Regions from separate parts of the Homo sapiens genome. Here all the other regions are linked to region 1. The links come from fine-mapping of genetic effects on gene expression. A gene starts in region 1. Each other region holds a variant in brackets. All regions are shown on one strand. Distances are between the middles of the regions.

Region 1 (5,130 bases):
AATGTTAATGGAATTTGGATACATTTCCACTTATTTGGTATATGGCTTTATTTTCAGTTTTATTTTACAAACACTTACATGGTCTTACTATGTGCCAAGTACTGGGTTCCAAACGTTTTATAAATATGAATGTATTTCATCCTCATAACTCTGTGAAGTGGATACTACTGTTATCTCCATTTTACACAGGTACAGAGAGGTTAGGTAACTTACCTAAGGTCTTTCAGTTAAAAATGGCAGTCGGGATTTGAATCTTGCCAGTCTGGCTTCAGAGTCTGTGATCTTTATTTATTTTTCAAGAGATAGGGTCTTGCTGTGTTGCCCAAGCTGGAGTACAGTGTTAGTCACAGGCATGATCCCATTACTGGTGAGCATGGGAGTTTTGACTTGCTCCATTTCTGACCTGAGCCGCTTCACACCTCCTTAGGTAACATGGTGGTCCCTGGCTCTTGTGGGGTCACCATATTGATGCCAAACTGAGGACACCCAACGCTCGTTGCGTGCTACAGCCAAGAACTCCTGGGCTCAAGTGATTCTCCTGCTTCGGCTTCACTAGTAGCTAGGACAATAGGCCTGCACCACCAAGCCAAGCCAGAGTCTGTGATCTAACCATTCTATTATGCCACCTTTCCCAAAGATGTTTACAGTTTTTCTTAACTGTAACCAGTGTAGAAAATTAAAAATTTGTGGAGGATCTTAAATTTGAGGACAGAGTTAAGGAATATATCCCTACGTACATGGCTAAATGTAAATATGTAGCAATGCCTAATAGAGGCCAGGCACTGTTCTGGTACTCTGGGTAGGGGTGGATGGGGTGGATAGGGAATATAAGGACAAATGATATAGGGTCCACGAAGAACTCTCAACCTAATTCTGATGCAATGTGGTGTTGGTATTTGAGAGTTTCCAAAATGTTGTGGGTAGGAGAGCAAAACAATAATATTTGGGTTTTAGAAAGTAAGGCATAAAATAATTTGTTCATTAAATCAAAGGAAGTAAGAAGATCACTTGGGAAAGTTATAATCCAAAAATAGTTAAGTATTTGAGTTTCAGCAGGAGGAATGAAAACAGATTACTTTAAGGAAATATTTCATAATTAGAAATATCCAGGTTTAGATACTGAAAGTGAGGGCCAGAGATAGGAATGGGTTGAAGATGACGCCACAGTCTTCTTTTTTTTTTTTTTTTTTTTTTGAGACGGAGTCTCACTCTGTTGCCCAGGCTGGACTGCAGTGGCACGATCTCAGCTGACGGCAACCTCTGCCTCCCGGGTTCAGGCGATTCCCCCACCTCAGCCTTCAGAGTAGCTGAGATTACAGGCGCGCGCCACCAGGCCCGACTGATTTTTGTATTTTTAGTAGAGACGGGGTTTCACCATCTTGGCTAGGCTGGTCTTGAACTCCTGACCTCAGGTGATCCGCCCGCCTCGGCCTCCCAAAGTGTTAGGATTACAGGCGTGAGCCACCGCACCCGGCCTACAGTACTTCTAACGTAACATCGCAGAAACACTGGAGGAGAGAAGAGAATACACTTCCACTCGGAATTCGCACCCTGGTCGCCTTCATTCGCTGGGTTCACTCGCTGAACTGCCTCGCCCCCGCCCGGGAGGATGACATCTCGGCCTGGGCAGAGACTCGAAAGCCTCCTCCTGCCGCTCGGGATGCTAACAGCAGGGAGAGCTGTGTCTAGTTTTTTTTTTTTTTTTTTTTTTTTTGAGAGGGAATCTCGCTCTGTCCCCCAGGCTGGAGTGCAGCGGCGCGATCTCAGCTCACTGCAACCTCCGCCTCCCAGGTTCAAGCAATTCTCCTGCCTCAACCTCCCGTGTAGCTGGGACTACAGATGCCGGCCACCACGCAAGGCTAATTTTTTTGTATTTTTAGTAGAGACGGGGTTTCACCATATTGGTCAGGCTGGTCTCGAACTCCCGACCTCAGGTGATCCGCCCGCCTCAGCCTCCCAAAGTGCTGGGATTACAGGCGTGAGCCACCGCGCCCGGCTTGTGTCTAGTCTTGCCCGTAGCAGCGTCGCCGACAGCCACGCCGGGTTGTCAGAGCCTCACTAGTTTTTCTCCCGGCCGCCGCTCTTCCCGGATTCAGCCACCTTCCCTCTTCCGGGAACTTGCCCGCGTGTTCCGGCTCCAGGAAGTGCGTCATCAGTCGGCGCCAGCGGCCGCACGCCGCGGAGCAGGGGCTCGGAGGTCCCGGGATTACGGTGCTCGAGCACGCTGGTGGGAAAGGACCCGGGACTTGAACAGTGTTGTGCGGCGCCATGCAGGTCTCCAGCCTCAATGAGGTGAAGATTTACAGCCTCAGCTGCGGCAAGTCCCTTCCTGAGGTGAGTCACTTCCCGGCCCCCTCACTCTCGAGCTCTTGGGGGTCGTCCTCCTCGTGGGGCAGCCGCCCCTCTCCTCGGCCCTAGCCTCTGTTTTAGCTGGACGCTGGTCACCCCCCGACTCGGGGAGGCCCAGAGGCGGCTGACAATTTCCGGGGGAGGTGTCGGCATTGGGAGACAAGGACACTGCCGTCACCGCGCCAGAAACTGGACCAAGGGATAATCAGGGTCAGTGAGCTTTGCTGGAACTTTTGTAAAGTTCTCTGTTCCAGAGAACGCAACCATTTGGGCCTCTTTGGGTGTTCACAGTCCCTGCCGTACATCGAGGAGGAAAACGTGGCAGATTCGTTGACACATCTCTCCCCCATATGGCCATCAGCTGTTTGTGGAGTCCCTATCATTTGCCAGGTCTTAGGGATACAACAGTGAACAAGGGAGATACAGACTTCGCATCTGCAGAATTTATGGTGTAGAGGACAGTATTTTCGAGACTTGTTGAACTTAACCTGATTCCTAGTCTTAAAGTTGGAGAGGGCTTGGACAAGTCGGTAATTCTCTTCCAATCTTCTCGTGTTTAGTAATGCAGCTGAGATTTAATAATGCGTTTAATATGCAGCTGAGATCCAGCAAGGGGAAGGGTGACTTGTCCAGCATGACACACTTAGGCTCTGAAACTTGTCTTTTGTTTCTTATACGTGATGATCCAGCCTCTGTCCAAGCACTACCACTGAGCACTACCTTTTGTGGAAGCTCATTTCCATTTTGAGACTCTGCACTTGTTAGAAAGTGGTTTTCAAATATGTCACCTTATAGCATGCCACTGTTGGCCTGAGTCCTGCCCTTGGAAAACAGAATAAATATAGCTCTCCTTCCATGCGTCTGCTTCTACAAAAATTTGGAGCCAGTGCTTAGGTTTTTCCTTTCTTCCTAAAATTCTGGTTTGAATAATTCCCTGTCTTCCAGTTGTTCTTCACACCCCATGAGCTTTCTCATTTTGTTCATTCATTCTCCACATGTATTGAGAAGTTACTGTGTGCAAGCAACTCTGTTTTAAGTATTGGGATCTATAGTGGACATTTCAGATAAGGTTCCCTGTTGGGGAAAAGGGAAATAAACAAGTGAGCAAATAAGGCAATTTAAGGTAGTCAAAAAGTACTTTTCGTGGTGAATGATTAGAAGAGAGCTGTTTTGGATAAAATATTGAGAGAAAGTGTTTTGGATAAAACCTTCGGGGAAGGCCTCTCTACAAGAGGTGACATATGAGCAGAAACTTGGATGATGAAGAGGAGCCAGTCGTGTGAAGATGTGGGGAAGAGTTTTCAGTGCTGAGAACAGAAAGTGCAAAAGCCCCACATGGGAATGCACTGGACATGTAGGAGGACGGAAGAGGCACAGGTGTGATTGCACTATGCTGAGTGAGGGGGCGAGAGCAGGGTGGATGAGGCTGGAGAGGTAGGCCTGGTAGGAAAGGTAGGAAGTTCAAGTTTTATTCTTAGTGCTGCTGGAAGTCACTGTTGTGTGGGCTGCTGTGCGACAAATGTCTAGCTGGGGAGGGTTCAAGTCGGGATGAATTAGGTAGTCCAGGTGAGCGACTTCGGTGGCTTGGGCTTGCCTGGTAACAAAGAAGATGCTAAAACACAGTGAGATTCAGGACATACTTTGTAGATAGGGTAATGGAACTTGCTAATGGATTGGACTGTTGGTAGAGGGAAGTTGAGGTGACAAAAAGGAAGGAATCAGAGAACTCTTCAGTTTTGAGTCTGAACAAGTGGGTGCACGGTGGTGCTGCTAACTGACATGGAGAAGAATCAAGAAGGAACACATTGAAAGGTGGAGAGGAGGAACGTAGTGAGCAAAAAGAATCAAGATTTTTTTTTGAGGTCGCGTGCAATGGCCTGATGTTGGCTCACTGCAACCTCTCGGGTTCAAGCGATTCTCCTGCCTCAGCCTCCCCAGTAGCTGGGACTACAGGCACGTGCCACCACACCAGCTAATTTTTGTATTTTTAGTAGAGACGGAGTTTCACTATGTTGGCCGGTATGGTCTCGATCTGATCTTGTGATCCACCCACCTCGGCCTCCCAAAGTGCTGGGATTACAGGCATGAGCCACTGCACCCGGCCCAAGGTTTTTATTTTCAATAGTGAACATTTGAAGTTCTAATACATACCAAATGGAGATGTTGAGTAGTTAGCAGTTGCATGGATACTAGGATGGAGATTGCAGGTGAATTTACTGTCGTTATTTGGGACTAGGTGAGATCAAATTGTGAGAGAAAGAACAGAGAAGATAACTAGGCTGAGGACCTGAGGCAGTCTTAGCATTTGTCATCCAAGAAGAGGAGGGGAACCCAGCAAAGAAGAAAGAGTAGTGGGCACTGATGGAAGGGGAGACTGGGAAATGTGTAGTTTTGTAGAAGTAAGTGTTTCAAGGAGGAGGTGGTGGTCACCTGTGTCAGCTGCTACTGAGAGCTTCAGTAAGATGAAGGCAGAAAAATGACCATCGACTTTGGCATGATGCAGAGCGCCCTTGACCTTGGCAAGGAGCTCCAGTGGAGTGGTGGGGAGGGTAGCTTGAGCTGAGTGGATTTGGAAACCCCTGCTTGTCCTGTTTAATATTTTCTGGTTATTTCTTTGAGGTGTGGTGCCTAAACTACACGTGGAACCCCAGTTGTTGTCTGATCTGTGCAAATATTGCTTCTCTCCTTCTGGGCTTTACCTTTTTATTAATGTAGAGAAGCCTCTACGTTTACTCCCCTGGTGATCCTAGGCAGTCTCCTGGCTTTAAGCACATCTGCATA
Region 2 (5,130 bases), 99 kb after region 1:
TCTGTACCAGCCTAACTTCATAGGTATCATAGCATTGAAAGAACTAATTTGATTGGCCGGGGTGCAGTGGCTCACGCCTGTAATCCCAGCACTTTGGAAGGCCGAGGCAGGCGAATCACCAGGTCAGAAGTTTGAGACCAGCCTGACCAACTGGTGAAACCCCGTCTCTACTAAAAACACAAAAATTAGCCGGCCGTGGTGGCGCGTGCCTGTAATCCCAGCTACTCCAGGAGGCTGAGGCAGGAGAATCGCTTGAACCCGGGAGGCAGAGGTTGCAGTGAGCCGAGATCACACCACTGCACTCCAGCCTGCGTGACAGAGCAAGACCCCATCTCAAAAGAAAAAAAAGAAAAAAAAAAAAACTAATTTGTTTCAAATGGCAATCATTCTTCATATATGTTACTATGTTGGAACAAAATAATAATAGGCGTCCCACTCAGGTAGACAGATACCATTCTTCCAGGTAGGACTGTGGTATGAATAGTACTTTAATGTTTTCTATATTTTAATGGTAAAGTTGAGCATGTGTAGACGGGTATTTATAGGACGGATCACTAGCCAGACACTTGTAAGCTCCTATAGAACATTAATAGCTATACCTTATCCTACTTTTTTCCTTAAGACAGCTGTGAAAACAAACAGACTAGGAAAAAACCCTGAGGGAAATATTTTTACAAGCTGGGTCAGAAGAGGTTTTATTTTATAGTTGTTCATCCAAAGCATACTTGTCTTTAGGCAATGCAATTGATTTGTTTTAAATTAAGAAAAAAATCTTAATACCAGCAACATATGTAGTCTTTGTAACATTTTCTCTATTTATTAAATATGATTATTACTTTAATAAATATAGTAAGATGAAAAGTAAATATTTGCCCTTGGGTTTTTTTAACCTGAAAATGTGTAATAGGCACATAGTTATTCATTTGAAATTATCTTTCACACTATCATCTATCCGATATCTACAGATAACTCCAAAATTTACATCATAGCCCCCTCCCTTCTCCTGAGACATGGCGCATCGTTCCCAGACACCTAGTGGTGTCCGTCTGAATCCTGGTGCTCTTCTCCCTGTGCCACAGGCATAGGCAGCCCTAAATGGAGCGTGATTTCTTCCCCTTTACTCCACCCCTGCGTTTTTTCCTAATGCTCTCCAGTGATGGATTCTAACTCAGTGTCGCCAGCTTTCTGGTTGCTTAAGCTACATGTTTGAGAGAAGTTTCTAACCCTGTTTTTAATTCTTAACCCTCCCATCTCCATAGCTGGATCTGTCAATTCTAATTTAGAACTGTATCTCGTAATTATTCTTTCTTAAAAACTGTCTGTTCCCATTGCCCTAATTCAGGCCCTGTCTCTCTTGCCAGTTTCTTAAAATGGCTTCTTAGTCTTCTCATGATGCTAACTTCTTACTCAGCAGTCCGTCAGACATCAGGCTGCTGCAGACTTTTGAAGCACAATTTTGGGTTGGTTTGTTTGTTTGTTTGTTTGTTTGTTTGTGACAAGGTCTCTCTGTTACGCAGGCTGGAGTACATGGTGTGATCTCAACTCACTGCAGCCCTGACTTCCCAGGCTCAAGCGATCCTCCTACCTCAGCCTTCCAAGTAGCTGGGACTACAGGCATGCACCACCACGCCTGACTAATTTTTTATATTTTGTATAGACAGCGTCTCACCATGTTGCCCAGGCTGGTCTTGAACTTCTGGCCTCAAGCAGTCCTCCCACCTCAGCCTCCCAAAGTGCTGAGATTGCAGGCATGAACCACCACCTGGCCAGTTCTGTCATCTGGGAGTCTTGAAGCACACTTCTGTTGATCATCCATCTTCTCCTTCCTCCCTCCTTCCCTGTCTCCCTCCTTCGTTTCTCTTCCTTTTTCTCTTCCTCTTCTTCCTCCCCCTCCTCCTCTTCGCTAGTGGTTTCCCCTTATATCTTCAAAATAACAGTCATGGTATTTAAAATCCTTTACAGTATGACCCAATCAAAAAATTGTTTTGAAATTGCATCATTCTTATGTCGCCAGACTATTCACCACTCCCATCGGCTGGAAATGCTGTTTCTTCAGATTTCTACTTGTTGAAACCTACTCATCTTTCAAGCCCCCTCCCTGATGCTGCACCCC[C/G]CAGGGCCCCTCCTGGGGTGTCTTTTGTTGGGATTCCTTTTTCTGTCCTCTCCTGTGGCACTTTCAGCACTACCGAGCAGCCCTCAGAAGAGGCCTAGTAGCACGTGTTTGCAGTGTTTTTTCTTCCTTACTAGTTTAGGATCAGGAACTCGATCTTACCTTTCTTTTTCCCTTCGTTGTAAGTCTTTCTTGGAAATGATGTTTAATCAGGGAAACTTGCTGCATTTAATATCTTAGAATTTTAGGTAAGGGTTTATCTGTTTTTAGGTACATACAAATAATAAACAGGCCAAGTTCCTTAATATCTTATGATTTACTAAACTTTTGTATAGGTCTGTCACACAAATAATATTCAGAACTCAACTGCCTGCAATCTTGTTTACTCTCAACAGTGGAGAAATAGTAAAGTAGTCTGTTCAGCAGAGTCAGAGTCCATCACAAACAGGTCAGCTTTTTCCAGCAGTGTTCAGGGCTGTTTACTCTGATTGACAAACAATTCTGAGTAAGCCGTTTCATCTGGCTTCCAAGCCTGTAGCAGAGAAGGAACAATAAGACAGTCCTAAATGTGTAAGATTCTCTGTCATCTACTTAAGTGAACAGGTAAGTTTACAGTACAGTTTAGAAAACTTTCCATTGAAAATGGTACAAATAAAAAGGAATTTAGTATCAGTCCTGAGCTATCTAAATGGGTCTCAGTAGCCAAAGTTTTTGTATCTGAAGGATACACAATATCCTTTGACAACAATTAGTTGACCTGAGGGGGAATATTGATGAAACAACCCTGTAGGGGATGGAAACGTCCCTTCTGTTTCCCAGTAACTCAGCTGGAATCGGTAAACTGACATCACCAGCTTCCTGCATCCCACCATGTGAGTTACTGACTTTGTATACCTCCTCTCCCAGTTTTGGAATCTGAAGTTGAAAGAATTGCTTATTTTAAGTCAGTGTAGTAACTAAGCTTTATTTAAAAGCCCTGTTTTCAGTGGCTCATGCCTGTAATCCCAGTACTATGGGAGGCCAAGGCACGAGAAATTGCTTGAGCCCAAGAATTCAAGACCATCCTGGGCAACATAGTGAGACCCATCTCTACAAAAAATAAAAAATTAGCCGGGTGCGGTGGTGCACCTGTGGTCCCAGCTACTTGGGAGCCTGACTGAGGTGGGAGGATCACTTGAGCCCAGGAGGTTGGGGCTGCAGTGAGCTGTGATTGTGCCACTGCACTCCAGCCTGGAGTGAGACCGTATCTCTAAAAAATAATAAAAGCCACTTTTTAAAAACCTAGTATCTTCTTGAAAGGTGTTTTTTTGCATTAAAATGTTAATTGAAGAAATTCTTTCTAATCTGTTAAGCATAAAGTTAGCCAAAAGGGTCATTCTTGGCTCATTGTGTGTAATGGCCAAGTGGTGTAGAGCATCTGCAAAGTAGATTAATAGAGGTTGTTTTGGTGGTGGCAGCTAAAACCTAGGGGCACGTTGAAAGTCCTGGAAGAAATTTCATAATGAGTTAATAATGTATGCCTCATGCCGCTTATTAACTTATAATAGAATCAGTGTTTTAAAACCATGTTTCTGGTCAAATTTTAGTCAGATATTAACTTAAATTTTTACGTACTTTTTCCTCCTTGTAGAGTCTTCCTAATATTCTCACCGATGATCGATTTAAAGTTATGTTTGAGAACCCTGACTTCCAAGTAGATGAAGAGAGTGAAGAATTTAGGCTTCTGAATCCACTTGTTTCAAAAATTAGTGAAAAAAGGAAGAAGAAACTAAGACTCTTAGAGCAACAAGAACTTCGTGAAAAAGTAATGTACTCCTTATCAGTTAGAATTTGCTACTGTTTCTTTAATGTAATGTTTTCTTTGTAAGTTAGAAGAGTCTTTGATTATACTTGAGATGTAATTAATTCCATATTAAGTGTTTGACATTGGGCTTAGGAGTATTATCTTATTTATTTAAAGGCATTTCTCCTGATGCATGCAGTAGAGCAGCTGTTAGGCACTCATTAATGGGCCAGTGCTGCTTCAGAGAAACCAAGGGGTCTGTGTTTGACTGGGGGAAAGGAGTTGCTGCTTACTATTTTTATTCTCAGGAAGAGGAGGAAGAGCCGGAAGGAAAACCAAGTGATGCAGAAAGTTCGGAGAGTTCAGATGATGAAAAAGCCTGGGTTGAAGAGGTCAGGAAGCAACGCAGACTCCTCCAGCAGGAGGAAAAAGTGAAGCGGCAGGAACGACTCAAGGAGGACCAGCAGACAGTCCTAAAGCCCCAGTTTTATGAGATCAAAGCAGGAGAAGAATTTAGAAGCTTCAAAGATTCTGCCACAAAGCAGAAACTGATGAAGTGAGTAGCACTGCCTGAGCGCACAGTTGACATGTAACCAAGCCCTTGCTTTTCCTCTCTGGCACATTGCCCTAAAGATGACATTTCTGTCTTTGGATGATGGAGGTGCAGAGGGTGGAGGGGACGAGGGAAGCAGGGGAGGTAAGGCCGTGCAGGAGGTGATGTGAGGGAAGCACCCAGGAGGCCTGAGGGGAGCGTCGCTATTGAAGTACATTGGTCTCTAGGGGATTTACTTATTTGTCACAACTTTTTGAGGTATAGTTTACATGCAGTAAAATACAGGGTAGAGAGAGCCTTATGAGTATCAGTGGAACACTTTTAAGCTGCAGAAGCCACACACTTTCCTTGTCCTTGTTTTTTCCCCATGGGGTTCCCTCACCTACAAATACTTACTCTGTGCCCTACAGATCAGTGGTTTGAAGCCTTTTGGACAGTGGTTGCTAGGAGATGACAACTTTTCTGCTTCTTCACAAAGTTATTTTAAAAAATTAGAACCTCGGTTATGTTTACCCCATCTCACTTTACCTGGTTATTGAAAAGGTTACTTGGAAAATTTGCCAGAAATTTTAAGTCTTTTTCAGGAAAATTGAGAGATCGAAAAGAGTAGTATTCTAGAATAGGCAAATATGTAGAAAGAGGCAGAAAGTAGAATGGTGGTTGCCGAGTGTTTCATGGGTACAG
Region 3 (5,130 bases), 92 kb after region 1:
CCTCAGGAGGTTCTTTTTTTTTTTAAGCTTATTCTTTCTCTGTCCTCTGGTTTTTAACCAGGTACGTGCATCTAAGATGGGTGAGCTCCTTTTGTCTTCATTTCTGTTCATGCTTTTCAATACCCAGGGACTGCAACTGAAGGGTCTTGTTCCTAGCTCTTGGCACACTGCTTATGTAATCTTGGGCGATTGCTCGTCTTCATGGGGTCACAGTTTTTTCATCTGTAACATGCAAGGACCGGATATGGGCATTCTTAGAGCTGTGCTTTCCAAATGGATTCAGACTCAAGACTCCCCCTTGCTGTCTTCTGCTTCCTTAGTCTTTCCCTGCATCCCCTCATCCTCGTTTATTACATTCTTTTAGTATATTGTTTAAATTTTAATTTCTGGAAGCCTCTCAAGTAAATAGAGGACTTTTAGGTTTCCATTTTCATGACATGAATAGTATGCCAATGTTGAAATAATTCCTCAAACTTATTAATATTTGAATTTATGTCTGTGTGTAATGGCTCTGCACCTTCCTAAGTTACACCAATGTGTATAAATGAATATATATATCTTTAAGTGTTTAGAATACAAGTCTTTGCTGCTGTGTTGACTCTCTCCTCAGAGTATTCACACTGATCTTCTTGTTAGCTAAGCCTAAGCATGATTAGGGAGGTAACTTTTCTGCTTTGTAATGTCATTTTACAGTAAAAGCTAAATGGAAGTGATCTTTGGATGTACATGCCATGCCCTAAGGCTTCAGTAGATAGAGAGTAGAGCTAACTTAGACTGTAGATGTTTGCATTCCTATCTGTGTTTTATGCCAGAGTCTTTATCATCTGATAGAGGCAAGAATACTTAAGTTACAATTTAATTTTGCTACTTTGTGCAGCATGCTATACCAGAGCCTGTTTATAAGGCCCTGTGATTATCTAGATGCAGAAGTGCCCTTCCCTTCCCCCCATTTCTTTGTAGACCTTTGCTGAGGTTGAGGGCAGCCAGAGAAGATTTAGAATACCCCATAGTGCAGGATGGTGGAAATGACCTCACAAGTTGAACACATGCAGAGCAATCCTCATGGTCAGGTGGGAAAATTAGCATTGTTCCATGCCTTTAAACATTTTTGACAAAACATTAAAAACTCTCTTACTGTCCATTATAAATTGGAAAACTAGGATCTTTTCATTATATTGTAATTTAAAACATTAGGAATAAAGCCTAATTGAGTATTTTATTTTCTTTCTTTTATTTCTTTTGTCAATAGTACTTGGAACAGTGCTTACTTTTTTCTCCTCCTAAACTTTTGATACGGAGCCAGCATTTTTCTTTGCCTCAGCAAATTGTCATACTCACTTTCTAAGTTTGGATAAGCTTCCGATGTTTCATCCTTTGCTCTTTTGACGTTATGAATTGTCTCTGAGAGTTCCTTTCATGTAAAGTTTTTTGCCAGTGTCACTTCCACTGGGACACTTTTCTTCTTCTTGTCACAGCTGTTTTCCTCATTTGTTTTCAGAGGTTCACCATTACGTGGTCCCCTCACTACAGACTTAGAGTGCCAGCCAGTGACAGTAGCCACATTCCCTGTATTCCCACAGCCAGCTCTTTCTTCTATAACTCCCTTTAAATTTGATTCACATTTTTGTTGTTGCAGTTTTATCTTGTTGATTAGTTCTCTGTAAATTATTCTTTTTTGTAAATGTCACACGAGTTTGTCTTCGGTATCTGAAGAAGCAATGCAACAGTTACACACGCGTCCTGTCTGCAGGAACTGAACAGGAAATTCACGGTGCATCACACCGCCTGATGCAGTGTCCGGTCACTGACAGGCTTTGAGAAAAGCAACCCATTATTTACGTAGGGATTTGTGGACTAAAGAGCTCGCTGTGGAGTTATACTTTATGAACATACTCAGTTGATGAACAGAGATAACTGAAATTTGAACCGTCTTGTTGGGGCACCTGGTATTCTTTAACTGCATTCCTTAGCTACTCCTTCCTTTTGGCACCGTGCGAATCAAGAACTTGCCTTTCTGTTATCTCCAGTCACATCTACGTTCCGTTGATGTTCACTCATTTTGTTGCTACATATTCTCTAATTAACTATCAGGATGGCATTTGATTATTTTAAAACCTATTGGTGGGTCACCCTGTAAAGAATTACCAAGCTGTGTACCATTTTACTTCCAGTGAAAAGGAGGAAGAACCTTAGAAATTCCTATCTTCTTCCATCAAACAGCAGTTTCTCTTCAGCTCTTCATAGCTGGAAATGTGATCTTTGTAGCCATATCACGTGATAACAGAATTCTTCCAAAGAGTACTATTTGTAAAATGTGCCCCTAATCTTCTTGTTGGTGACTTCCTAGCCCAAATCAGACCTATTATCAGAGCTCAGTTTCATTCCAGAAATATTTATATATGGTCTTTTGAAAATCTGAGGCTGTGCTTGGAAAAAGTTTGTATAATTTGTTGTTGAACAGTTTCATCTTATGTAAAGTGAAGAT[C/T]GTAGAAATCACTCATGAATTAAGGAAAGAATCCTTCATTATAATTTAAAAGACTACTTGAAAGAATTGCTAAGTCTCATCAGCAGATCATTAGTCTCGCCTTTGAACTCAGCTCCTCAAAAGCTTGAGAACTTTACTAGCTGTGATACCTCCTGATTTGAAAGTAGGTATCTTGCAATACCAATTTGAAAGGTATGTTTTGCCTTGTCTGCAGCTGAAATTTATTGGAGACAGTGAAATGTGTTCCTAAATATTGCTGCCACTGAGAACACAAAAATCGAATAAGATGTTTACTGTATGGTTGATATTGAACCTAAAATGGGAAGTGGCCCACCACATAATGTCAATCAGTATTATATGGACATTATCCAAACTCAGAAATTTTGGTTGCATTAATTCTAGTTAACAATTAAGGCCGAGTGCAGTGGCTCACGCCTGTATTCCCAATACTTTGGGTGGCTGAGGCAGGAAGATTACTTGAGCCCAGGAGTTGGAGTCTGCAGTGAGCCATGATCACACCACTGTACTGCAGCCTGGGCTACAGGGCAAGACAGCATCTCTTTAAAAAAAAAAATGAATGAATGTATTTATTCTTTCAACAAATATGTATTGAATTTCCAGTATGCACAAACAGCTTTGAGAGGCATGGGCATCTGTGATCTGTTTGATTTGTGAGGGTTTGAGTTTTGGTTAGAGCTATTTTTCCTATAGGTATCATTTTTTGTATGTTAGTCTTTTTTGTCAGTTTCTTGCTGTGGCCTTAAAGTCTCTGATGAATGTACTTTTCTTTCATTCTGCAGCAGCTCAGGCAGGACTGTGCATGAGATCTCTAGGCCAGGGGTCTCCAACCCCTAGGCCATGGTACTGGTCTGGGGCCTTTTAGGAATCAGGCCGCACACCAGGAGGTGAACCTCAAGCTTCATCTGTATTTACAGCCACTCCCCATTGCTCACATTACTGCCTGAGCCCCACCTCCTGTCAGGTCAGTGGCCACATTAGATTCTCATAGGAGCATGAACCCTATTGTGAACTGCGCATGCGAGGGATCTAGGTTGCGAGCTCCTTATGAGAATCTAATGCCTGATGATCTGTCACTGTCTCTCATTAGCCCCCGATGGGACTTTCTAGTTGCAGGAAAACAAGCTCAAGGCTCCCGCTGATTTTATATTATGGCGAGTTGTATAATTATTTCATTGTTATTACAGTGTAATAATAATAGAAATAAAGTGCACAATAAATGTAATGCGCTTGAATCATCCCAAAACTCCCTCGCGCCCGCCCCCCGCCCCCCACCACCATCTGTGGAAAACTTGTCTTCCGAAACTAGTCCCTGGTGCCAAAAAGGTTGAGGATCACTGTTCTAGGCTATGTGTATTCTGTGGTTAGGAACCCATGGAAGAGATATTTTAGCAGTTTCAGGAATTACTAAATACCACTGAGAACTTATATTAAAGTAATACCTCATCTCTCTAGGGAATACAATTAGGTACAGATACTTTGGGTTGGATCAGGTCAGTTTTAACATCCAAAATATTATTTTTAAAGCTTTTTTAGTATCAATTAAAATTTTTGTTTTTTTTAAATTACAGTTATACATGCATAGTTTTAAAAACTAAACATTTCAGTCTGGGCACAGTGCCTAACACAAACATTATGGGCTCACACCTGTAATCCCAGCACTTCGGGAGGCCAAGGCAGGCAGATCACTTGAGGCCAGGAGTTTGAGACCACTCTGGCCAACACAGTGAAACCCCATTTCTACTAAAAATAGAAAAACTAGTTGGGTGTGGTGGTGCGTACCTGTAATCCCAGCTACTTGGGAGGCTGAGGCAGGAGAATTGCTTGAACCTGGGAGGCAGAGGTTGCAGTGAGCCAAGATCACGCCATTGCACTCTAGCCTGGGCAACAGAGCAAGACTCCATCTCAAAAAACAAACAAACAAACAAAAACAAAACAAAACAAAAAAACATTTCTGTAATCCCATCATTTTGGGAGGCCAAGGCAGGGAGGATCACTTGAGCCCAGGAGTTCAAGACCAGCCTGGGCAACATGGTGAAACCGCATCTCTACAAAACATTAGCTGGGTGTAGTGGTGCATGCCTGTGGTCCCAGCTACTCAGGAGGCTGAGGTGGGAGGATCTCCCTGCAAGGCCGCAGTTAGCCATGGTTGTGCCACTGCACTCCAGCCCAGTAACAGAGTGAGACTCTGTCAAAAACAAAAACAAAAAAAACCTAAACATTTCTCCAAGGTTTGTTAGGAATGTAGGCCATCCCATTGTCTGCCCCTTTTCCTCCCTCTGCCTTCCTCCATTTTCACCTCTTCTCAGACAACCACTTTTGCCTTTTTTGCTGATTATTTTGGTATAAATCTCTCTCTCTCTCTCTCTCTCTCTCTCTCTCTCTGCCCCCTCCCCCTCCCTCCCTCTTGCCTGTAGTCCTACCTCTTAACTTTTTAGTGTTAGGCATTATCTTTTGATAACTTTCCTTTCCAAGGAAGCTATATTGTGATTTTGATTAAGTTGGTATTCAGCATTACATTGTTGTACTTTTGTTTTTTGAGATAGAGCCTGTTACCCAGGCTGGAGTACAGTGGCAGAATCATAGCTTACTGCAGCCTCAGTCTCTCGGGCTTAAGTGATCCTCTC
Region 4 (5,130 bases), 130 kb after region 1:
GGGTTTCACCATGTTGGCCAGGCTGGTCCCGCACTCCTGACCTCAGGTAATCTGCACGCCTCAGCTTCCCAAAGTGCTGAGATTACAGATGTGAGCCATCGCGCCCAGACAGAAGTTATCATTTATTTATTTTTGCTCATCTTCCTCTACTAGAATGGAAACTCCACTGAGAGCAAGGATCCCATTTATTCTTTATTTCCGTATCCCCGGTGTCTTTGAAAGTGCCTGGTACGTACTGGCACAACGTTTCTGAAATGAATGAGTAGATATGGCTCTACTGGTGTCCTGTGACCCGCGTAACCAAGTGCCAAGAGCTGGGTGGCTCGCAACAACAGAACCCGCTCTCACCGTCCTGGAGGCCAGGTGTCTGACATCGAGGTGTCAGCAGGGCCCTGCTCCCTCCAAAGGCTCCTGGGGAGGCTCCTTCCCGGCCTCCTCCAGCGTCTGGGGGTTGCTGGCAATCTTTGGCACTCCTTGGCACTCCTTGGCTTGTGGACGCTTCACTCCAATCTCCGTCTCCGTTTCTGCCCAGAACTCCCTTGTGAGTCCGTGTCTTTGCTTTCTCAGGAGAATTGCTCATTCCAGCCGCAGTTCTTCCAGGGGGCGGTCTGTGCGCGTGAACTGCCTGAGCGGGGAACCCAGCCAGATCATGAACTGCCCAGGCCCCAGCTCCCGGCTTGATTTGCTGCAGTTTTCCTAATTGGAAGAGAAACGTATGCTGATTATTTTTAAAGACATAAATGTTACAGAAATGTAACAAAAGCAAGTGAAATTCCCCCCAGCCCCATCTCTCCCTGCTCAATGGCGTGATCGCACACATTTGGGGCTGGTGCCTCAACTCAGGCCTCTCATCACCCATGGAGGCCTGGGATGGGCAGAGCGTGACGTCAGGCACCATGGGGGGACTCGCGGGGGCGAGCTTTACCTTTGCTCTTAAGGAGCTCCCAGTCTAAAGAGGGAGACAAAAAAAAAAAAAAAGCCCAAGGAACTGTCCTAGCCAGAGGGGCCTAAAGAGGCCATGACTAAATGGCCTGTGGCTTTCTGCAGGGGATCCTGGAACAGAAAAGGACTTAAGGTGAAAACTGAGGAGATCTGAGCCAACAGTGGACCTGAAGAATGACTGTCAGTCCATTCATCGGAACAAATGGGCCGGACTCATGCCCCATGTTAATAATGGAGGAACCTGGATGTGGGGTTTATGGGAACTCCCTGTACTATCTTCTCAATTTTTCTGTAAATCCAAAACTGTTGGAAAAATTAAAATCCATTAAAAAAAAAAAGACACAATATAAGGCACCAAGGCAAATGGTCTGCTGAGACAGAAGAAACCAAGCCTCGGAGCTCCCCACCGGCTTACGCTGAGGGACCCCCGGAGGGAGGCCAGCTGGCCCTTGCAGCCACACAGGGTGAAGGAAATGAGTTGGGTGTTTCGGGAGAGAGCAACCAGATGTCCCATCTGGCTGTGGCCCGCATCCCTCCCCGCCAGGGCCCCGCTCGGTAAGCGGTATCTGCAGCCTTGGGAATGCCCCAAGGGGAAGGGGACAAGAGGAAAGGGAGTGAGACCATGGGATGGACCCGCGGGCCTTCCTGCTCTAGTTCCCAGCCTCTGCCTGCCCCACGGGAGGCTCCCTAAGTTCCCCGAGAGTGCAGGAATGCACAATGAGCAAATGCTGGTTGCTAGGCCTGCGTGCGCACAGGCAGACTCTCCGTTGTGTCTTTCGGTGCCTGCAAGAGCCTTGCGGGTCTGCAGCTCATAAACCCTCTTCACTCACCATCTATTTTGCTATTTTTTAATTGCCTGAGGTCAAATCCAGAAAGCAGCTTCTGAGATTCCTGCGGCTTCCTGCCCGCCTGGTGTCCTACGCTACCATTTTCCTGTGCAAACACTTGAGGGGCGTTGGGAGCCGAGGGAATTGGAGCAGCAGGTCCTGTTCCTTCCCCTGGCTGTGTGTTTAGGAAGGTCTTTGGAAACACAACTGTTTGGAAAAGTCTTGAAATAGGAAATAGAGTCCCAGCTGAGTGTCTAGGTTACATGAGAGTCAAAAAATATAAAACCATTTCCTCCAAGGTTGCCAAGTTTGGAGGGCCCACCC[C/T]GCTCTGCACATCCTGCAAATGACTCAACTTGAATTTACCTCCGTGACTCTTGCGCGACTTCCACGCGTGAAGCCAGCACCCAAAGGAGCACTGGGTGCCCCTGGCGTCCTGGACACCAGCCTCCCCTCCATCACAACACTGGGACCCTATCCCAGGCTGGGCCTGGCCCACTGCTCAACAAGCATCACACTGTCACCTGGGGCATCTGCAGAACTTTTCATCAGACAAGGAGAAATGGCCTGTCCCTTGCATGGGGAGAATTCCTCTGCTATTTTAACCATTTTCTTTTCTTTTTTTTTTTTTTAAGACGGAGTTTCGCTTTTGTTGCCCAGGCTGGAGTGCAATGGCGTGATCTCAGCTCACCATAACCTCCGCCTCCCAGGTTCAAGCAATTCTCCTGCCTCAGCCTCCTGAGTAGCTGCGATTACAGGCATGCACCACCACGCCAGGCTAATTTTGTATTTTTAATAGAGATGGGGTTTCTTCATGTTGGTCAGGCTGGTCTTGAACTCCCGACCTCAGGTGATTCACCCGCCTCGGCCTCCCAAAGTGCTGGGATTACAGGCGTGAGCCACCGCACCCGGCCTTATTTTAACCATTTTCAAACATGCAGCTCAGTGGCAGGAATCCATTCATTGTTGTGCAGCCATCACCAACATCCACCCCCAGAACTTGTTCATTATCCCCTGCTGAAACTTTGCACCCACAAAACACTCTCTATTTCCTCCTCCTCCCAGCCCCTGGTAACCGCCACTGGACTTTTCTCTCTATGAATTTGCCTCTTCCGGGTGCCTCATATCAGTGGAGTCATGTCCCTTTGTGTCTGGTTTTTTCACTTAGCGTAGTGTTGTCGAGGAGTCATGTCCCTTTGTGTCTGGTTTTTTCACTTAATGTAGTGTTGTCGAGGAGTCTGTCCCTTTGTGTCTGGTTTTTTCACTTAGCGTAGTGTTGTCGAGGAGTCTGTCCCTTTGTGTCTGGTTTTTTCACTTAACGTGGTGTTGTCGAGGAGTCTGTCCCTTTGTGTCTGGTTTTTTCACTTAACGTGGTGTTGTCGAGGAGTCTGTCCCTTTGTGTCTGGTTTTTTCACTTAACGTGGTGTTTTCGAGGAGTTTGTCCCTTTGTGTCTGGTTTTTTCACTTAACGTGGTGTTGTCGAGGAGTCTGTCCCTTTGTGTCTGGTTTTTTCACTTAACGTGGTGTTTTCGAGGAGTTTGTCCCTTTGTGTCTGGTTTTTTCACTTAACGTAGTGTTCTTGAGGTTCACCGGTGTGGTAACAGGTATTCGAGTTTCATGCCTGCCCATGGCTGACTAGCATCTACTGTGTGACTGGGCCTCACTGCACTGATGCGTCCCTCTGCGGAGGGACAAGTGGGTCGCTTCCACCTTCTGGTGACTGTGAATAACACTGCTGTGAACATGGGTGTGCACTCTCTGTTGGAGTCTCTGCTTTCAGTTCTTTTGGATATATACCCGGGCGTGAAACTGCTGGGTCATAGGGTAATTCTGTGTTTAACTTTTTTTCTTTCTTTCGAGACAGAGTTTCTCTCTTGTTGCCCAAGCTGGAGTGCAGTGGCGTGATCTCGGCTCACTGCGACCTCCGCCTCCCGGGTTCAAGCAATTCTCCTGCCTCTGCCTCCCGAGTAGCTGGGATTACAGGCATTCGCCACACCTGGCTAATTTTTTGTATGTTTAGTAGAGATGGTATTTTGCCATGTTGGCCAGGCTGGTCTCGAACTCCTGACCTCAGGTGACCCACCCACCTCAGCCTCCCAAAGTGCTGGGATTACAGGCATGAGCCACGGCACCCAGCCTGGGCTTTTTCCTGTTGCTGTCATTGAGGAATTGTAGTTCTTTACATGTTCTGGAGAGGGACATCACATTCTATGTTTGATTTTTATCCATCTGTGCACACATATCCAGAAGCAGAAATTCAAGTGTAGGGGGGCTGTGGGGGGACTGAGAAAGGCTTATATAAAAGGCTTGGCAACAAAATCAAATCAGCCTTTGCAGAGGTCCCTGTTCCTTCCATTCCCAAGGGAACATTCCAGAAACCCCCACTGTGGGCTGGGCTTCTCAGTCTTTTCTCCATGTCCTGTTGCAAGCCCGAGAGCCCTGAGCCCATGGGCCTGTGTGGTGGTGGTCCACAGCCTCCAGGCCAGGGGAGGAAGGGTAGACCTTGCTGGGCTTGGGTGCTCACCCGCCAGGCTCCCATCCTCAGTGCCCCTGGGAACCCTGTCGGCATCGCCTTGAGTGCCCCTGCTGTCTGTCTCCGGCCCCCCTGGGTCAGCCCCTTCCTGAATGCCCCTTGCACCCATCCGTGCCCGTCTTCTCCAGGAGCAGGAATTCGGCCTGTAATGGATGCAGTTTTATTATTGAGGGAGGCAGTGAGTGTGGGTATCAAAAAGGAGAAAGAAACCCACCCGGCGTTCTTCCACAGTGCATGACGCGGCTGAAGGATACAGTGGACTTACCCACTTCAGTGACTCCCAAATTATTCATCAGATTCCTCGAATTGTACACACATCCCAATTCCTCATCTAGAGGGCGTTTTCCACCTGGCATCAGCTCCCAGGGATTTTGGCCTTCATTGTCACTGCTTGGCTGGGAAGGGGAGGTGACGAGCTGCATGCTGGTGGCAGATGCAAGTTGAATTTGAAGGCCCCCAGCTCCAGGACTGGATGTGGTGCCTGCCCCAGCCTGTGGGGCACCTTAAGGGCCCTGTGGCTTTAAGAGCCAAGGCCGGCTCTGTCCCCCTGCTCAGCCCAAGTTACTAGAAGGCCAAGGCAGAGGCCTCACAGCCTCAGAAGGAACCAGCCCTGCCCACACCTTGGTCTCTGGCCTCCAGAACTGTGAGACAGGATGTGCCTGCTGTTTAAGCCCCTGGTGTGTGGTGCTATGTGACAGCAGCCCTGGCAAACTCACATACCTGGAAGCCCTGGTTACAGCCACGTGGTTTGTTGAAGTGGAGCTTGGGGGCCTAAAGGAGGGGCTTCTGCTCTGCCTACAGCCCCCGAGCCCAGGGGAGTTTCAACAGTGA
Region 5 (5,000 bases), 44 kb before region 1:
CTCATTACCATTCAAAGCAGCTATCCTCAAAGCACAGTGGCAGGGCCCGCAGCATCAGTATCACCTGGGAACTCGTAGAAATGCAGGTTCTCAGGCCCCAACTCAGACCTCCTGAATCACAGATTCTCGGGGTGGAGACCAGTGATGTATTTTTAACAAACCTTCAGGATGATTCTGATGCATACTCAAGTTTGAGAGCCGTGAGTTAACGTGTTCAGCCTTAGTATGCCAAATGTGGTCTTCAGGCCAGCAACACCAGCATCACTGGGGAGCTTGCAAGAAATGCAGAATCCTGGCTCCAGCCCAGATCCACTGAGTCAGAATCTGCATTTTGTCAAGGTCTCCAGGAGGGCCTGGCACAGTGGCTCATGCCTATAATCCTAGTACTTTGGGAGGCCATGGTCAGCGGTATCATTTGAGCCCAGGAGTTTGAGACCAGCCTGGGCAACATAAAGAGACCCCCATCTCTACAAAAGAGAAATGAAAAAAAAAAAATTAGCCAGGCATAGTGGCACACTCCTGTAGGAGGCTGAGGCAGGAGGATGGCTTGAGCCCAGGAGTTCAAGGCTGCAGTGAGCTGTGATCATGACTAACACTAGCATGGGTGACAGAGCAAGATCCTTTCTCAAAAAAAGAGAGAAAAAAAAAAAAAAGACCAGGAGATTTGTTCACATGTCCAAATTTGATAATAATTCTCTAGAGCTCCAGCCCAAAGCTGTGCATAGAAATATAATTCAAGCCACGTGGGTAATTAAAAAATGTCTAAGGCTGGGCGTGGCAGTTCACACCTGTAATCCCAGCACTTGGGGAGGCCGACGGGGTGGGCAGATCACATGAGGTCAGGAGTTCAAGACCAGCCTGGCCAACATGGTGAAACCTCATCTCCACTAAAAACACAAAAATTAGCTGGGCCTGGTGGCACACGCCTGTAATCCCAGCTACTTGGGAGGCTGAGGCAGGAGATTTGTTTGAACCCAGGAGGGGGAGGTAGCAGTCAGCCAAGATCATGCTACTGCACTCCAGCCTGGGTGACAGACCAAGACTCCATCTCAAAAAAAAGGTCTAGTCACCACATTTAAAAAAGTAAAAACAGGTTAAATTAACTTTAACAAGATATTTTATTTATGTCAAAATATATATTTTTTTCTTTTTTTCAAACAGGGTCTCACTCTGTTGCCAAGGCTGGAGTGCAATGGCTCGATCACGGCTCACTGCAGCCTCAACCACTCGGGCTCAGGGTATCCTCCCACCACAGCCTCCTGAGTAGTGGGGCATACAGTCACACCCCACCATGCCTGGCTAATTTTTTGTATTATTCGTAGAGAGGAGGTCTTGCTATTTTACCCAGGCTCAGTAAGCCATTTTAAATGTCTAGATTTATAAATACTATTAAGTGTTTTCATAAGTAACAATGATTGATAGTACAATCGGGGAGGAGGGTGGAATGGAAGAGAAAAAGGCCATTTTCTGGTCAGTTCTACCGATGACTCCGAGCTGGAAGCATCGTGGAAAGCCCAGGGCACAGAGTCCCCCAGGGCAGATGGACCCAGACAGGCAGACCATTAATGGCAAGTTGATGGATCTGGAGTGTATTCCCTCCTCTGCCACCCCTGTCTGCCTTTGTCTTTCTAGGATCTTCTCTCTGGGCCTGTTTCCTCATTTGGAACTCTTGCAGGTTAGATAAGATCTCTAACGGGCTGCCCAGCTCTTATAACCCAGGATGCTTCCCTCTATTCATCCATTCAATCAGTCACCAAGGGCCGCCATGTTACAGGTGCTAGGGATCTAATCATAAGCAAAAGACAGGGAAGAAAAATATGACCAAATAATCCCACAAGAAGACGTCAAAATCCACTGTGGCAAGTGCCATGAAAGAGGGGAGCACCGGGTGTGTTAGAGAGGGTAAATCTGTGAGTGTGATGGTAGAGGGTGTGGGAAGAGGTGGGGAAAAGAGTCTCCAGGAGCTGGGAAGGAGGAAGAGGGCTCAGCAGGGGCAGATGGGAGGAGGAGGGGTGAAGAGGCTTGGAACAGCCGCCATGGAAAGTGGGAGCCCAGCAGACACACACAGTAGGGCTGCCAGCAGCTTAGAGCAACCCACCATGCATGCGGCATACAGAGACATGCAACCGCGGTCTATTCACTGAATCCCATGAAATGCCACATAGGTCATCTCAATCTGACATTCTTCCACCAACAGAGAAGAAAAGCCTATATGCTTTTTACAATTCCAGTTTACTTCTCTTTAGAATGCCCTTACAAGAACTGACTCACACGTATCACTAAGCAGACATCCACACTCAGCTATGAAATCTTTGATCAGCCAACCCTCAGTCAGCTCCATGGAACCATGTGGGTAAAGAAGAAGCCAGCAGCTATTCCATAGACAGGGGAAGCACTCAGGGGCAAGCAACGACAGGGGAAGCACTTAGGGGCAAGCAACGGTCACCAAGCACCACAGCACCCAGAAGGTCCTGCTGAGGTCCCGCTGACCGCCCCAGCGCCTGGGAAATGCACTCTGTCAATCAACACCGCAAAACAGGCTAAGATACTGTGAAGGACTCAAACTTTTTTTTTAAAACAGGGAGAGAGGTTTTTTTTTTTT[A/TA]AGATAATAGCATTTGGTTTTTCAAATGTTCATGAATGATAGGGCAAATACAGAATAAATTAACAAAGGCAGTATGAAGGAATAAATTAAAAAAAGAGAGAGAAAGCTCTCGTAAGCAAAAGCTGCCTTCCAACTACATGGAAAAACACTCTAGTGCCCTAAGTAAATAAATAATAAAAGGATATTGAAACAATACACCCTGAAAACGCTTGTGCCTTCTCTGTTCTCCTGGGCAGAAGCAGTGCTGACAGGTTTATGCTACCGAGGTTACAGACCCAGCTAGCATTTATTTACCTAATAACACTCGAGGACTTTTCAAAGAACTGATGCCATTCTCCAGATTTATTAGTACATATAACCCACTCTTTTACCCCAACCTCTACCAACTCCCAACACAGGACACCCTGACCCCTGGACTAGAAAAAAGCTAAGATTAGAATTTTGACGTGCTCAGACCACACCATTTTCCTTCCCCCTGATAGGAAGGCTCTTAAGAATATATACCCACAAGGAAAACGAAAACAATGCACAGTGATTTTTCATTCTTGCCACACCTAGTCCTTATTGTTTAGAAAACACTTAAATTTGCACAGGTTCTATCTGTTTCACAATTATAGCCACAGTCTTGCCTGTTCACGCATTTTCATTTCTTTTTCTTTTTTTTTTTTTGAGACAGTCTTGCTCTGTCGTCAGGCTGGAATGCAGCGGCACAATCTCGGCTCACTGCAACCTCCACCTCCTGGTTTCAAGCAATTCTCCTGCCTCAGCCTCCCAAGTAGCTGGGACTACAGGCGCCTGCCACCAGGCCCGGCTAATTTTTGTATTTTTAGTAGAGATGGGGTTTCACCGTGTTGACCAGGATGGTCTCGATCTCTTGACCTCATGATCCACCCGCCTCGGCCTCCCAAAGTGCTGGGATTACAGGCGTGAGCCACCGCGCCTGGCCTTCATTTCTTTTTCTTAAACATATGCTATACTACCACTAAAAGCAACTTGTGCAACAAGTATGTACAGAACAGAACACTAATATACTTACTGGGGAAACAGAGCAAACAGACAAAAAAGAAACTAAAGTAGGGCTGGGCATGGTGGCTCACGCCCGTAACCCCAACACTTTGGGAGGCCAAGGCTGGCGGATCACCTGAGGTCAGGAGTTCGAGACCAGCCTGGCCAACATGGGGAAACCCCGTCTCTACTAAAAAAATACAAAAATTAGCTGGGCTTGGTGGTGGGTGCCTGTAATCCAGCTATTTGGAAGGCTGAGGCAGGAGAATCACTTGAACCCGGGAGGCGGAGGTTGCAGTGAGCCAAGATCACGCCACTGCGCTTCAGCCTGGGCAGTAGAGCAAGACTCTGTCAAAAAGAAAGAAAGAGAGAAAGAGTGAGAGAAAGAGAGAGAGAGAGGGAGAGGGAGGGATGGAGGGAAGAAGGGAAAGCGAAAGAAAGCAAGAAGAGCAAGAAAGCAAGAAAGAAACTAAAATGGAAACAATAACAATCCAGGATCACAGAATTTCAGAGCTAAAGGGGTTTTAGTGAATAAGAGGTTAAAAGACTTGCACTAGGACAGAAAATTGGTAGCAAAGACAGCTCTAGAATTGCTACCATTTCTGCAGCAGGTAGGGAACTATTCACACTTTTTTTTTTTCTTTTATTCTTTTCTTCCTGAGACAGGGTCTCACTCTGTTGCCCAGGCTGGAGTGCAGTGGTGTGATCTCTGCTCACTGCAGCCTCGACCTCCTGGGCTCAAGCAATTCTCCCTCCTCAACTTCCCAAGTGCTGGGACTACAGGCATGCACCACCACACCTGGCTAAATTTTGTATTTTTTGTAGAGATGGGGTTTCACCATGTCACCCAGGATGGTCTTGAACTCCTGGGCTCAAGCATTCCACCCATCTCAGCCTCCCAAAGTGCTGGGATTACAGGCATGAGCTACTGCGCTTGGCCCAGTTCACATTTCTTAAGCCAACCTTCCTGCACGAGACCAGTCTCCTTCTGCGGTTTGTCACTGCTGCCCAGGAAAACCTAAGGCATTCACTAGCCTAGGGCAGTGGGCTGTTCTCAATGGCATCTGTTACAGGCCTTTCTTAGGTTTAGCATTATTTGATTATGTGATGTGATTATTTTATTAATATGTGTCTTCTCAGCTAGGCCATAAGTTGTACAAGGCCAGTCATACCTCCCTGTGGTGCAGAGAAGCCTAAGAAGGGAGTCAACATTTCCGGATCAAGTCACTTTTTCTTGGATATTAACTTTTACAGGACAGGCCCTGAGATTTGATAATACTTGATTTAGCATGATTTTACTTCCCTTCATTCGTCTGAGAGCAGACAGATTTTATGAATGAGAGAGCCAAAGATTAGTTTTCTTTCTCAAAGACTATGAATGGTGGCTAGGTGT

Which allele goes with the higher level. Alleles are on the strand shown, and positions count from the first base shown. SD is a standard deviation of normalised expression in the study named. Not every link is listed here.
For the expression in testis of the gene that starts at base 2,155 in region 1, allele C in region 2 goes with a lower level than allele G (large effect, 0.82 SD a copy in GTEx).

What was found. PIP is the estimated chance that this variant, and not a neighbour inherited with it, causes the effect. A credible set is the group of variants that fine-mapping cannot tell apart.
Region 2: its variant is the best candidate, but not a certain one, in a credible set for the expression of NOL10 in testis (GTEx, PIP 0.52).
Region 3: its variant is the best candidate, but not a certain one, in a credible set for the expression of NOL10 in whole blood (INTERVAL, PIP 0.78).
Region 4: its variant is the best candidate, but not a certain one, in a credible set for the expression of NOL10 in whole blood (INTERVAL, PIP 0.72).
Region 5: its variant is the best candidate, but not a certain one, in a credible set for the expression of NOL10 in whole blood (INTERVAL, PIP 0.87).

Annotation. Positions count from the first base shown.
Region 1 is chr2:10,687,000-10,692,129 of GRCh38, reverse strand. NOL10 (nucleolar protein 10) reads left to right here and starts at 2,155. Exons shown (of 21, transcript NM_024894.4): 1 at 2,155-2,334. The coding sequence starts at 2,269. It also overlaps the pseudogene RN7SL832P. RefSeq lists enhancers at 2,309-2,588, 2,649-2,708.
Region 2 is chr2:10,588,362-10,593,491 of GRCh38, reverse strand. NOL10 (nucleolar protein 10) reads left to right here. Exons shown (of 21, transcript NM_024894.4): 18 at 3,741-3,914; 19 at 4,202-4,449. Among named protein-coding and RNA genes, the nearest start is that of NOL10, 99 kb to the left of the region's middle. RefSeq lists an enhancer at 3,100-4,299. The variant C/G (reference allele first, on the strand shown) is at 2,114.
Region 3 is chr2:10,594,903-10,600,032 of GRCh38, reverse strand. The region is part of intron 17 of NOL10 (nucleolar protein 10); the gene reads left to right. Among named protein-coding and RNA genes, the nearest start is that of NOL10, 93 kb to the left of the region's middle. The variant C/T (reference allele first, on the strand shown) is at 2,486.
Region 4 is chr2:10,552,222-10,557,351 of GRCh38, reverse strand. No RefSeq gene overlaps it. Among named protein-coding and RNA genes, the nearest start is that of ODC1-DT, 110 kb to the right of the region's middle. The variant C/T (reference allele first, on the strand shown) is at 2,094.
Region 5 is chr2:10,731,239-10,736,238 of GRCh38, reverse strand. The region is part of intron 3 of ATP6V1C2 (ATPase H+ transporting V1 subunit C2); the gene reads right to left. Among named protein-coding and RNA genes, the nearest start is that of ATP6V1C2, 12 kb to the right of the region's middle. The variant A/TA (reference allele first, on the strand shown) is at 2,603.